Linked DNA regions of Homo sapiens. The protein of the gene in region 1 purifies or fractionates together with the protein of each later gene. This does not show direct contact. Each region holds a gene or a part of one and is shown in the gene's direction. Other genes may lie near its edges.

Region 1 (7,027 bases):
ATTCTTCTGCTCATTTAAAGGAAACTTTCCACCCAGGTTCCCGCTTTGCTTTTAAGGTGGAAGGTTAGACAGTGAGAAGATGGAATTATAAACTTTACATGAACAGTTCAGAAAAGAGACACTTTTCATTATACTGGACAGATGTTTTCTGCTGTAGGGGAGAGGAAAATGGGATTAAAAAGTTTTCGCCTTCTCTGTATCTGGAGATCCTGCACTTTGGTTTTCTCCAGGAGGGGTCAGGATGTTTGGCTGGGCTGCCCATGTCTTCGGCTTCCCACACTCCTCCCGTGAGCAGAGGTCATGACGTCTAGGGAGCCCTGGAAGCCCTTTTCTCACAAATTCACTTTAAACATCCCTAGGGTATTTAGTCAAAGGAGGTGAAATCAAGATACATGAATTGTAGAGGATGGAAAATTTCTATAAGACTAATACAACACATTAAAATCATGGAAATCATGAAATGCTCTTTTAATTTCACTTGTGAATGCAACAAATGAAGTCTCTTAACTCACTATAAAAAACTCAAGGAACTTGGTTCTTTCTCTGTGTGTCCCAGGAGAACAGAACACAGAGAACCTTCCTGTGTAATCCATGTGATGTGCTCCCGAGAACCCTGGCTAGGTGTTTGTGGAATGTAATTGAAAATCAGACGCTGCCTCGGGTCTTAGTGCTGGATGTGGAGGCATTTGTCTCTCAGCTCTGGAGGCCCAAAGTCTGGGATTAAGGTACCTGCAGGGCCTCGTGCCCTCAGAAGGCTCCAAGGAGGGGTCTGTCCCAGGCCACTCTCAGGCTTCTGGTAGTTCCTGGCTTGTGGCAACACAAGTCCAATCTTCACATGATGTCCGTGCTGTGGTTTCTTCTCTGTGTCCAAATTCCTCCTTTTTAGCAGGACATCAGTGGAATTGCATTAGGGGCACCCTACCCCAGTATGGCCTCATCTTAACCGATTACATCTGCATTAACTTCATTTCTGAATAAGGCCCCATCCTGAGATACTGGGGGTTAGGACTTCAAAATACGAATGCTGGAGGAGCACAGTTCAGCTCATGACAGGTTGTTTCTACATTTGAACCAGATCAGTTTATTAGCTATTGATCTGATTGCACAATGCCAGGTGCTAGGGGAGATTGCAAAACCTAAATAATAGAGTCTTGGGGGTTCCAGTACAGAAAATGTAACTCGAAAGACAAGAACAGCATGAGGCAGAAGGAAGTCAAGAGTCGTAATGTCAGATATGGATGAGAAGGAGCAAAAGAATCAAGGAGCTAAAAAGACCAGCATTTGAGCAGGTCAGACCCAAGACTTTGCTGACGTGTGGGTAAGAATATGGTTTGCATTTCCCAAACTGTAACCTGGCAGCCCTAGGTGATTTTCCACAGGCTTGCAGAAAATCAGCAAATCTGATGTTGCATAGGAAAAAAGGAAATACTTTTTTCTAGGTAAACTGGAGACTCACTTTCTGCTCAGTGTCAGGATTCTGGGGTTGGTTAGGGGCTGGGGTGAGGAGAAGCAGAAGTGCTCACCTGCTAGAAATGTGCCTTTTCTTAGGTCCTTTGGCCCTAAAAAGAACGTGATGAGTGATCACATGTGGTGGTAGGGTAAGGTTCTCACTCAGGCCCGTGACCTGTAGCCGTCATAAAGACTTGTTGATTGGCTAAGTCACTTATAGAGAAGTTATAATATGGTATCTCCAGACTGTGTTTTTAAGGAGACTTCTTTAAACCCTGCAAACTGAATAACTGGTTATATCAAGTTGCTTCTAACTAAACTACCCTGAATATGGTTCCAGAATAGTGAATTTTGCAATAATAAACATTTCCTTTTGAAGCATGTGACTTTATAGTCCTGTCTCAACCCTGAACCAGTGTGATTCTTGTTTGGGTTTCAGGCCTAGGGAAGAAGGTAGCTGGAACTGCATTTGCTGGCTCACTAAAAAGAAAGCAAACAAACTGAAATTCAATTTAAATCAGGAGTGCCTGAAGAGATTTCCTGAGAACCAGACTAGAAACTAGTGTTTATGTTGGCATCACACAGACACAGGAGAGCACACACACAAGCATACACACACGCATACATGCACACTTGCACATGCATGTGCACACACGAACTTATGCACACACGCATGCATGCCTGCACAAACATGCACATACGTAAACACATGCATGTAAATACACACACACACAGACACATGCGTGTACATAGACACGCACACACGCACACACAGACACGTCTGACGGGGGTTGAGGGAGTGGGGGAAGGAGTGCTGGCACATGTGGCATTCCATTTTCTCAGGGGCAGCTGCTCTGTGAACTCTCCAAGCCCAGTCCAAAGGATGCCATCTCAGGACCCGGCCCTCATTCTATTAATAGAAGTCACTCCAGAATCTGCCTGCTCGCCTCCTTTCTTTAGGCACTGCCTGCCTTTCTATACATCTTAAAAGAGAATAAGATGTCTGCCCAGCATGGCAGGCAGCATGCTCCTCTCGTTTGCAGGCGCTGTCCCTCGCAATACCCATACTGCAGATGAGGACCCTGAGGTCTGGCAGTTAGCTTTGCCCCAGGTCATCTGGCTGCACTCGGAGGCGGAAGATTCCAGCTCAAGACTGTGAGCTTTCTCATGGAAAACAAGACTGATTCTGCCACCTATACTGAACTTAGGGGAAGATTCGCAACCACTGCCTTCAGAAATTTACAAACCAGATCAGGAAAGGAGACGGAGGCAGCAGTGTAACTGAGCACCCAGGGGGGACAAAAGTGAGGACTGGAGGGGCTGGCTCAGGTCACCGGCCACAGGGGCAGAGTGGGAGCCCTCAGGAGTGCCTGGAGCCACTGCAGGTGTCTCACTTCTCGGGACATCTGGAAGCAGCTCTGCCCTTCAGTAGACAGACCCCAAAGGCACCCAGGGTAGGGCCCCTTGCCCTGGGGGAACCTGCAGAAGCTCCTGCAGAAGTCTGTGTCTGGGCCTTTCTCCCCGGCCGCAGAACGTGTGTTCCGTGTTCCTGTACCATCCAATAACTCACTGTAGTTTCTGGGCTTCCCTACTCTGTAGGGCTTACCAGATTTCCACTTAGTCCAAGATTTCAAACTGTGTGCATCTACACCACACACACTTTTAAAATTCAAGTACTATGTACACACGAACATCTCTCTCCCTTTAGAGGCCACTGATCACTCTAAAATGTAAAGAGTGGAGGCGATGGGGGCTGTGAGGTGAGTGGGGGCAGAGCCGTTTGTTCTTGTGTAGGGTGGATTTTAGCCGTTTGGATTGGAGTCTTGTGTAGGCTTGACGCCCACGCGTCTCTCACTGCACGAGGGAGGTGGCAGAGGCACATCATCCCTTTGGGCACGCAACTCTACCACGTGCATCGCTGGGAGATGGGAGGACTGGCATCCCCCGAACCCACGGGTCCCTGCCTGGAGACACTGGGAGACCCGGTCCTCTGCGTGCTTCAGAGTCAGGCACACCTGGCTTTGTTCCCGCAGCCATTTGCTCTGTGACTTCCGGCACCTGTCTAACCTCTCGGAGTCCTAGTTTCTTCCTCCTAAAAATGAGATGAATGATATCCACTGGTGGGGGCAGTGAGGTCATTACCAGGGTAAATGAGTAGATGTGCTGGGCACAAAGTCATTCCTCAGTACGCAGTAGTTACTGTTTTGTTGATTGACACTGAAAACCTTCCCCATCGTGTCCAGAAGACTGTAAGCCAAGATTTGAACCTCAGAGCCATCCAAATCCAGGAACACGGGTTAATTCTCACAACAGGGCAGACTCTTGCAACTTTCGGGGGCTGGCAGCCTCTGCATCCCACTCTGGACAGACCACCATTGTCTGGGTTGGTGGGCCTGCTGAACGTGGCTTCCAGGGCCCTCTGGTCAGCGCCAGATCTGGGCGCAGCTGCTGAGTGCACACAGCTGCTGGTTGGGGAGCGGGAGGGCTGAGCGGGTGGACTCAGGTTTCGCTTATATAAAGTTTCATGCATCAGCAGGGCCGGGAGTCAGAGATGGGAAGTGAGGGCCAGCCTGCCCCACCTGGTGTCTGCAGAGAGAGGGCTTTGGGGCCGCCCCGGTCCGACTGCTTCCCGGGTACAGCTTCTGACTTCTCCCTCCTTTATCAGTTCTGTCAAGTTAGGGTAGGAGAATTAATCTCTTGATGTTTTTATATTTCTAACTTTAGCTTTGAATTTTTAAGGTTTGATGCACCAGGCTGGCAGTTCTCAACTCTGTTTTTGCAGGATGGTGTCATGTCTGCTGGGGTCTCAAGGCGAGGCGGTGAGGGGAACTGAAATGGAATGTGTGCACAGTGTATTTCAAACACATGTATGTGAATTCATTTAATCATCCCTTTTACCAGGTTCCTATTGTGTGCGTGCTAGTGACCCAATCACACGCATGGAAGCGCACGCATGGATGCCAGCCATACCACCTCTTCAGGCAGGTCAGAAGAGAAATGCTAGGATCTTGGGTATAAAGTATTTGTGAGTTCTCAGGATGAAGGAATGTAGAGTCATCCAGCCCAGACGCCTCCTTTTGCAGATGGCTTCACTGAGGGCACCTGCATGTGGTTGTGTAAGCTGTGTACTGCCCGGTCTTGGGAGAACCGTTCACACTGTAGTCTAAGCAAATGGCTCCAAGGCCTGTGCTGGGAGGCGGCCCTGGGATACTGTGTATAGAGGTCAGCCTCCCAGGACACAAAGCAGAGTGGAGAAGGGTTGGGGTAGACGATAGAAGTGGCCCCAATTCTCCAACCCTCCCATGCCCCTGGCAAAGTGACCTTGTAGCGCCTCCATCAAGAGGTAGGAGTCTGCTTCCTCACTTCTTGAATCTGAGCTGTGACTTGTTTTGGCCAATGGACTGTGGCAGAAGTGGCCAGTGTTAGTTCCTAGCCCAGGCCTTGGAAAGGCTTGCACTTTTCTGCACTCTCTCAGGCCCTGTGTCTACCTCCGAGGAGACCCCAGGGCTTGGGTGCTGGTGGGGTGTGATCACATGGAGGAGAACTCAGTTGTCCCTGCTAGGCCATCCTGGACCTATCCACAGCCAGCCAACCTCAAACATTGAAGAGAGCCCAGCCAGGGTCAGCAAGCTGCCTGCCCTGCCCAGAGCAGGCACAGCTGCACCAGCAGGCCCGGACCAGGCTGACTCAAGCCAGCCACTGAGGTTTACCATGGCCATAGATAACAAATCACACACACACACATACATGCCCGTGCCATTCTTAACTAGGGGACATGCCGATATATGTAAATACAGTCCATCCCAATCACAAGAGTGCTTGTACCTTTGTTTAAAATACCCTCTATATCCTTTATTTCCTTGATAATTTCCTCTCTAGTATTTTCTCTATTCTCATTTTTTAGAAATCTTATTAAGACTAATCAGAGATAATATCTATTGAGTGCATACTGTATGCCAGGCACTGTTCTAAGGACTTTGCCCATAATAATGGATTTAACCCTCCTCACCACCCTATAAGGGAGGTGGTGACAGGATCGCCCCCATTTTCAGATTAGGAAACGGAGCTCCAGAGCGGCTGGTAACTGGCCATCGTTGGCTGGTGGGCTGCGCCCCCCCCCCCCGGCCCCGCCCCCTGCCCCTGCGGCTGCCAGGCCTGCTGGGTTGAGTCTCTCATTTGCTGACCTTTCCACTTGTATGTTTCTTCTCCTTCTGAAAGACATTTCCTTGACTTTATCTCCCAACTTTTCTACTAACATTTTTTATTTTGACCTACTTTGGCTATTTTTTTTTTAATTTCTAAAAGTTCTTTTTTCTCGTTATCTGGTTTCTCTCTGTTTCTTCCCTTTCAGTCAGTCCCTTCCTGTTTCTGGGAAGATTCCTCTCTTCCTGTGAACATTCATTACAGTTTCCTTGAAGGGTGCTTCCTTCCCTGCATTCACTGTCTCTGTTTCCTCTGAGTCCTCTTATGCAATTCTTTTTTTCCATGTTGGAGATTTACTGAAACATCATGTGATCTTTCAAGTGTGAGGCCCTCAAAATGACCAGGAAGTCCTGTGTGACTGCTGGGGCCCAGGGACATGCAGGTCTCGCCATGGGGCAGCCTGGTGATGCCCAGAAGTCTGAACCTGTTGGTCTCTTCTCCAGCAGCCGTGAGTCTCTCCAGAGACTCCTCCATCTGCTGCCTATCAGAGCAGTGTCCATCCTCACCTTGGCTCCTGTCCATGCTGGCCCTCTCCATGTTCTGGCCTCTTTGGTTCACTTTTCCCCAGAGAATAAGCCTCGGACCCCTGCAAGGATGGCAAGAGGGGTGGCCAGCTGTGATGGGGCTGGGGCCCCTAGGCCTGCATCTGACTCTCAGACAGGTGGCTTGTCTACCACCTGGGAGGGTGCACTTGCCACTGGCTACTGGGATGGGACCTTCTAGTCTCTGCTGAAGCCCCACCCATCCTCCGTCTGCTCCCTGCCTTCATAATGGTGGCCTGGGGATAGGTGTCTTCTAGTTTTTTTTGTTTTGTTTTGTTTTTTAGACAGAATCTCACTCTGTCACCCAAGCTGGAGTCCAATGGCACGATCTCGGCTCACTCCAACGGCCGCCTCCCGGGTTCAAGTGATTCTCTTGCCCCCGCCTCTCGAGTAGCTGAGGCTACAGGTGTGCGCCACCATGCCCGGCTAATTTTTGTATTTTTAGTAGAGACAGGGTTTCACCATGTTGGCCAGGCTGGTCTCAAACTCCTAACCTCACGTGATCTGCCTACCTCGGCCTCCCAAAGTGCTGGGATTACAGGTGTGAGCCAGTGCGCCCAACCAGGTGTCTTCTAGTTTTATTGAAGATGATGCTTGTGTTTCTTGTTCTCCTGGCTGTTTTGGAGGGATTTTTTTTCAAGAGAAGTGAGGCTGAAATAATTTTACTGTACTGCTTTGGACCTGGAATCTTTCCATGATGAGAAAAAGAGAGAGAGTGAGAATATATGAATGAATATCCATGTCCTATGCCCTGGGTTTCATATCTCTTCTTCTGAGTACTTTAAAATTACTAGAGAAAACAAAACTGGAAGCTGGTTATTTGAAATGTTCTT
Region 2 (7,027 bases), on another chromosome or scaffold:
TTCTTTTAGTTCAGTCCCTTCTCCAGACCCAGAGCCTTTGGTAGGGGGCACTTCATAGATTGATTCATTTATTTTCTTCCTCTCTGTGACCTAAAATTCTCTAAACCTTGGTAAGCATACTATGTTACTTCTAAGAGATGGCATATTTGTAGTGTTATTTTGTGGGTAGAGAAAGGAAAATGAAAATTGCAATGGGCAAGATTCCCACAATGAACATTCCCTGGAGTTAGTTATGATTTTGGGATACAGGATTGTTTCATGCTGAAACATGCTGCCTGGTATGTTGCTGCTCACGAGTCTCCAGGCCCTCTTAGGATGTCTGTTAAATTCTGTGCTAGCAGGGGGCCAAAACAGGCAACTTCATCTGAACTGGAAAGGTCTTGTTGCCATATGGAGGACTGCATTTCCGTGTATTTTTACAGGGGTGGGGGAATAAAGCACCAGAGGTTAAGACAGTAAGGGGCAGAGGTACATCTCTTGCCTGATAACATCTGCAAAACATTGAGCTCGTCAAACATATCTGGTGATTCCAGTTCTCCCTACAGGGATTCAGAGAACTGTGAGCCACATTGCCTGCCCTCAGGCTGGCACAGGGACATAAACATTATAGAACTAAGAACAATAAAAATTTGAACAATTTAAAGTAATTATATTATAGACGGTACATTTATTAAACCTGAAGTACACAACATAGATGTTATTTGCTATAGGGTTCGGGAGCTGGACATAATCCCTTTTAGGCTAAAGTGGACAGGGAAGGCATCATAGAGAATGTGGAACTTTAACTGAGGATTCAGAGTTAAAGAGAACAGAGTAGATGGTGATAGGAGCCTGTCCGATTAGGACAGCAGCATGAAAAAAGTTGAGAAAAGTGAAAAGATGGTTGAAACCTGAGTCTAGCAGTCTAGTTTCTCCATTCACTGATTCCGTAATATCTCTTTAGCCCAAGGATCAGCAGACTTTCTCTTGAAGGACCAGAGAATAAGTATTTTAGGCTTTGTGGTTATATGGTCTCTGTCACAGCTTCTTATCTACTGCTATAGTGCAAAACCAGCCATATGTAAATGAATGAGTGTGGCAGTGTTCCAATAAAACTATATTTATGGATGGTGAAATTTGAATTTCATATAGCTTTTTACATGTCATGAAATATTATTCCTCTTTTGGTTGTTTTTCAGCCATTTAAAAATATAAAAACCATGCTTAGCTTATGGGTTCTACAGAAATAGTTCGCTGGACCAAATTTAGCCTGTAGCTGTAAATTTGCCGACCCCTGATTTAGCCCACTAACATGATAAACTAGGAATACGTTATGCAAATAAATTATAAGCGTATGGAGTTTCATTCTAAGAATATCCACTAGAAGATCCAAAATTGAAAGCTATGGGAGGTGAGTACAGGTTCAAGTAGTTGGAAAATAATGGCTCATTATTTAAGCTTGTAAATTGATATTTAAAAAAACCAAGAGTCAACATGGTACTTTAGCCCATGCCATTGCATTTTTTAATAACCTTAGAAAGAAGGCCAGGTGCAGTGGCTCACGCTTGTAATCCCAGCAGTTTGGGAGGCCAAGGCGGGCAGATCACGAGGTCAGGAGATCAAGACCACAGTGAAACCCCATCTCTACTAAAAATACAAAAAATTAGTTGGGTGTGGTGGCGGGCGCCTGTAGTCCCAGCTACTCAGGAGGCTGAGGCAGGAGAATGGTGTGAACACGGGAGGCTGAGCTTGCAGTGAGCTGAGATGGCGCCACTGCACTCCAGCCTGGGCGACAGAGTGAGACTCCGTCTCAAAATAAAGAAAGGAAGAAATAATAATAATAATAACCTTAGAAAGAAAGACAATTTAGTGATTGGATGTTCTTGCAAATGAATAGCATTTTCAAGGATTTATTTAATCAGGCTCCTCCTAAGAGTAGCATGTTCTGACAACAGCTATAGATTTATCAGAAAGCAATCTTTGGATATTGGTGGTAGTTGAGTTGCATGTTGATCATTAAATGCTGTACTCCTTTTGCAGGCATGGTCTACATGGCTGGACTTGTTTTTGCTGTTGGTGGCTTTAATGGCTCATTAAGAGTTCGCACTGTAGATTCCTACGACCCTGTGAAGGACCAGTGGACCAGCGTTGCTAACATGAGAGACCGGAGAAGCACTTTGGGAGCTGCTGTGTTAAATGGATTATTATACGCTGTGGGAGGCTTTGATGGGAGTACAGGTAATTTCCTTTTCATTTATTCTACATTGCTGCTAAAATTAACGTAGTAGTCATGTTTATGGAATAAATTGTGGCAACATTAGGGCACATGTGAGGTTTTTTGTGTTTTTTTTTTTTTTTTTGAGATGGAGTCTTGCTCCGTCGCCCAGGCTGGAGTACAGTGGCGCAATCTCGGCTCACTGCAAGCTCCGCCTGCCGGGTTCATGCCATTCTCCTGCCTCAGCCTCCCGAGCAGCTGGGACTATAGGTGCCCGCCACCACGCCCGGCTAATTTTTTTTGTATTTTTTAGTAGAGACGGGGTTTCACCATGTTAGCCAGGATGGTCTCAATCTCCTGACTTTGTGATCCGCCCACCTCGGCCTCCCAAAGTGCTGGGATTACAACATGTGAGGTTTTAACTGGTATTTAAAGATAAGTTTAAAATTTTATCAAGAATTTCCTTAAATGATATGAGTGGTGAGTATATAAATTTTCTTTCTTATGCATCAGTATCAGTCATCAAATTTTAAAAGCTTATAAATATCAGTAGCTTAGGTAGGAGCCTTCTGGAAAACAAGCTGTACCTGTTTTTCATGTAATTGCTGTGTTTATGTTCCACCATTTTCTTCTCTTAATTTTAGCCCAGTATAACATACCTGAAGTATTTTTCCATATATATGAACTATTGACATTTTTTAGAGAAGGAAATGAAGACTATTGTGCTTTATTATAGGTTTGTCATCTGTGGAAGCATACAACATAAAGTCTAATGAGTGGTTTCATGTAGCTCCCATGAATACAAGGAGGAGCAGTGTTGGTGTGGGTGTTGTTGGAGGTAGGTGTTGACAGTTCTTTCAGGTACATGTGGCATTTTGATCCTTGAGAGTGGTTCTTCCAGTAATCTCAACTTTAGTTTTCTGAATGGGCAAGCTAATTATCATTTTAAAAAGAAAAGTCGTAATTACTGTAAAATTTCAGTTATCCTCTTTTTAAAATTAGCTTCTCTATATAAATCAACCTATATAAAGCCTTTTCTCTCCCTCTCTATCCCCCTCCCTTTATCCCTCCTCCTTTCTCTCTGTGTGTGTGTGTGTGTGTGTGTGTGTGTGTGTGTGTTTGACTTATATAACTGTGTGTGTTTGACTTATATAACACGTGTGTGTTTGACTTATATAACAGCAGTCCCCAACCTTTTTGGCACTAGGGACTGGTTTTGTGGAAGACAATTTTTCCATGGACAGGGGTGGGTTGGGGGGATGGTTTTGGGATGAAACTGTTCCCACCTCAGATCATCAGGCATTAGAGTGTCATAAGGAGTGCACAACCTAGGTCCCTCAAATGTGCATTTCAAGATAGGGTTCACACTTCTGTGAGAATCTAATGCCGCTGCTGATCTGACAGGAAGTAGAGCTCAGCTGTAATACTTGCTCACCTGCCGCTCACCTCCTGTTGTGCAGCCCGGTTCCTAACAGGTTCCAGACAGGTACCGGTCCATGGCCTGCGGTTTGGGGACTGCTGCTGTATAAGACTGTCAACTGATTTTAACAGTTGCTTGGGGGAACAATTCAGGTGACATAAATGTGTAATTTTATATCTGGAGAAGGGCTGTTAAGGGATGGATTGCCACAGTTATTTATTTATATCCTACTTTGTCTCCCAACAGAAGTTAAGGAAGGCTCTAAGTATTATTATTATTATTTTTTTTTAATTGACTTGGGCAAATTTGCAGGTTTCCACCCCCTCCTCATCGTAGGTGTAATCTGTGCACTTAGAAAAAAACAGCTTTATTGTGATATAATCCACATCATACAATTCACCCATTTCATGTATACAGTTCATTGTGCATCCATCACTGCAATTCATTTTAAAACATTTTTATTATCCTCTAAAAGCAATCCTGCTTCCCTTGGCTCTTACTCGTATCTTACCCAACCTTCAGCAACTGCTAGTCTACTTTCTATCACTTAGAGATTTGCCTCTTCTGAATATTTTAGTCATACAGTATGTGATCTTTGGTGACTCACTTCTTTGGCTTAGGGTGATGTTTTCAAGATTTGTTTATTTATACTGAGGCATTTATTAGTACTTCATGCCTTTTTAATGCCAAGTAATATTGCATTGCATTCTGTTATTAATTTTTGATTTAACCTTTTTTCCGATTTCCTAAGATAACTTTGGTATTTAATTCTGTCTTACAGGATGTTGTTCACTTATCAAATAGTGTTACCTAAAGATATAATGAGTGTGCTATTTTATCAGATTATTGATGAAAGTATAAAATTAACATCATCAGCTATACCCTGCAGATCTTCATAACATGATTTGATTACCCCATCTGTCACCATTAGGCAAGACCCTAATATATTTCATAAAAATCAGCAGCACTTTAAGGGGAAACTCTGCTGCCATGAAGGAAAATATATTAATATTTTCTGGCTTGAAAAATTAGTGTTTTTTGTTTGTTTGTTTTTTAATAAATTTGGCTTTCTATGTGATTTTATGTGTAGGTTTGCTCTATGCTGTAGGAGGTTATGATGGAGCATCACGTCAGTGTCTTAGCACAGTAGAATGCTATAATGCTACAACAAATGAGTGGACCTATATAGCAGAAATGAGCACCAGGCGGAGTGGAGCAGGTACATGTGAACCTGTTTTAGCAACTGAAGCACAAAAATGATGGAAAATAGTTAAAGTAAAATGATTCAGTGGCATCACTTTACATTATCTGAAAATATATGATATGCTGATTTTAGTGGCACTGCTAAATGTCTTTTGAATTGTGCAGGTAATGGGAGTAATTACAAAGTAATTTTACTTTAAAATTTAATGTCTAAGTGCCATAGACATTTCTGTTTCATTTATATATTCAAGTTGTTAGCACTCCTTTTAGTTTTTTGTTTTTAGTGCTTATTGGGGAACTTGCTTAATAATCAAGTCTTTTCATGTATATTTCTTAAAATTTTGTGCTTTAATATGCGGTTATTTTACTATGGATATTGTTTTCAAAAGGATTACATTAAAGGACTTTTTCCCTCCCTGTGTTTCACCTACATGTTATTAATATTTTTATTCTGTTTGACATGCCTCTTTTTTCAGAATAATAGTTTGTTGAGATGCTTATTTAATCATCAATTGTATTGATTTCCATTTCTTAAATTGTAGGCTATAGTATCAGCTTGCTTTTATTATGAATTATAACTTCGAAAGTTTTAGTTACAAGTCATTTAAATAAACCTAATATGATATAAATCTCTTGTTCTTTTTGCCCCTCTATTTGGCTGGTTGTGTTTTATAGGTGTTGGTGTGTTAAACAATTTATTGTATGCTGTAGGAGGTCATGATGGCCCTTTAGTACGAAAAAGTGTTGAAGTATATGATCCCACCACTAACGCATGGAGACAGGTTGCAGATATGAACATGTGCAGAAGAAATGCAGGTATCTGTCAGTTTAAGGTTATAAAACTTATGTTGAATTTTATTTTAAGTTTCACTGGTATCACTCTATCAATGAATATCAATGGTATTTCCATTGTTCTTTTACTGATCTGGGTTCCCTGATAGACTCTGAACTCTTTAAAGCCAGAAACTTATGTAATAATCCTATAAAGTGAATGCCTGCCATAGTCTCTGGAACATAACAGGTTGTTGTGACACTTCAGTAAACTCATCATTTCTACTAGCTGCTACTTTTTGGTGATAAATGTGGAGACTAATTAAATTAGGTGTAGACCCTTTAAATGATACTGAATTCATTCATTCTTACAACAGATATAATTTAGTGCCTACTATGTATCTATCATACACTGGAGATCCTAGTTCTCAGGAAATTTAGTCTAGTTGAGTAGATATTTATACTAGGTTAAAAAGCTAGTTGATTATCTAAATCTAGAGGGGAAGTCTGCAAAGGTAACCCTAGCTTAATACAGTTCAGGATTTCCAGAAAAATGGAAAAACTAAAGCAACAACAATAACAACAAATAATTTTAAGAAAGTAGAGAACTTCAAGATTAGGGAACTAACCACTTAAAAAGAAGAATCAAGAAAGGGAAATACAAATGGAAAATAGACTCAAGATAGCTACATAGCCTTTCAGGAAATGCTAGGATTCTTCAAAATGCCATTATCTTCATGTCATTTCTCATAGTGTAAAATAAGTTCCTGGTGAGTCTCAAACTTACTGTACACCATTGGACACCCCCCTCCATCAGCGCTCATCTTAGTTTCTCTTTAAAGAAGGGTGATTACTAAGAGAGACTAAGTATGTGGAACTGCAGATACTGTTGGCAGCAGACCAGAATTTATAGTTAATTCTGTTTGGCCTTGCACGTCATCTAGTCAGTTGTATATGGTAATCAGTTCGTTAGATGGTAAGACCCTCAAATATGGGTCCTTAGTAGAATAAGTGACTCCAGTATACATTAAGTTAGAAAAGCCATGGTGATTTGTGCATGTGTCTTCCTGGATTAGGAAATTTAGTTGCAATTTGAGCTTTTTATGAATATTTTCTTAAAGGTTAGACTAATTTATTTTTTCTCTATATGTGTTTATTGTTTTCATATCAAAATTCACTCATTTAGGTAGAAGAATAAAGAGATAATTTGTATATATAGAGCTACCATTATCCTGTTCTTCAAAAAATTGTGTGGGAAAGGGTAGGATTTAGGAAAAAGACGTAAGTCTCTGTTGAAAAGTTGTTTCATATTTTGATTTAGACAACATTACTTGAGTTTATTTGATAATCAGGAAGAGAGAGAAATCTGAAAGCTTACTTTTCAGTTTGTTTTTCCTTCTCAATCAATGATGTTTATTTTCTATGCAAATAACAAAATT

Evidence for each region. The genes of interacting proteins can lie anywhere in the genome.
Region 2: the proteins of ARHGEF7 (region 1) and KLHL2 purify together in Homo sapiens (affinity purification with mass spectrometry; 3 studies listed by BioGRID and IntAct, with this or other methods). This does not show direct contact.

Annotation. Positions count from the first base shown.
Region 1 is NC_000013.11:111,118,303-111,125,329, forward strand, and holds part of ARHGEF7 (rho guanine nucleotide exchange factor 7), read left to right. Parts: intron 1-7,027. UniProt on the Homo sapiens protein: Acts as a RAC1 guanine nucleotide exchange factor (GEF) and can induce membrane ruffling. Functions in cell migration, attachment and cell spreading. Promotes targeting of RAC1 to focal adhesions. May function as a positive regulator of apoptosis.
Region 2 is NC_000004.12:165,308,534-165,315,560, forward strand, and holds part of KLHL2 (kelch-like protein 2), read left to right. Parts: intron 1-2,019; coding exon 2,020-2,217; intron 2,218-2,930; coding exon 2,931-3,032; intron 3,033-4,395; coding exon of another isoform or gene 4,396-4,418; exon of another isoform or gene 4,419-4,543; intron 4,544-4,704; coding exon 4,705-4,833; intron 4,834-5,492; coding exon 5,493-5,633; intron 5,634-7,027. UniProt on the Homo sapiens protein: Substrate-specific adapter of a BCR (BTB-CUL3-RBX1) E3 ubiquitin ligase complex that mediates the ubiquitination of target proteins, such as NPTXR, WNK1, WNK3 and WNK4, leading most often to their proteasomal degradation.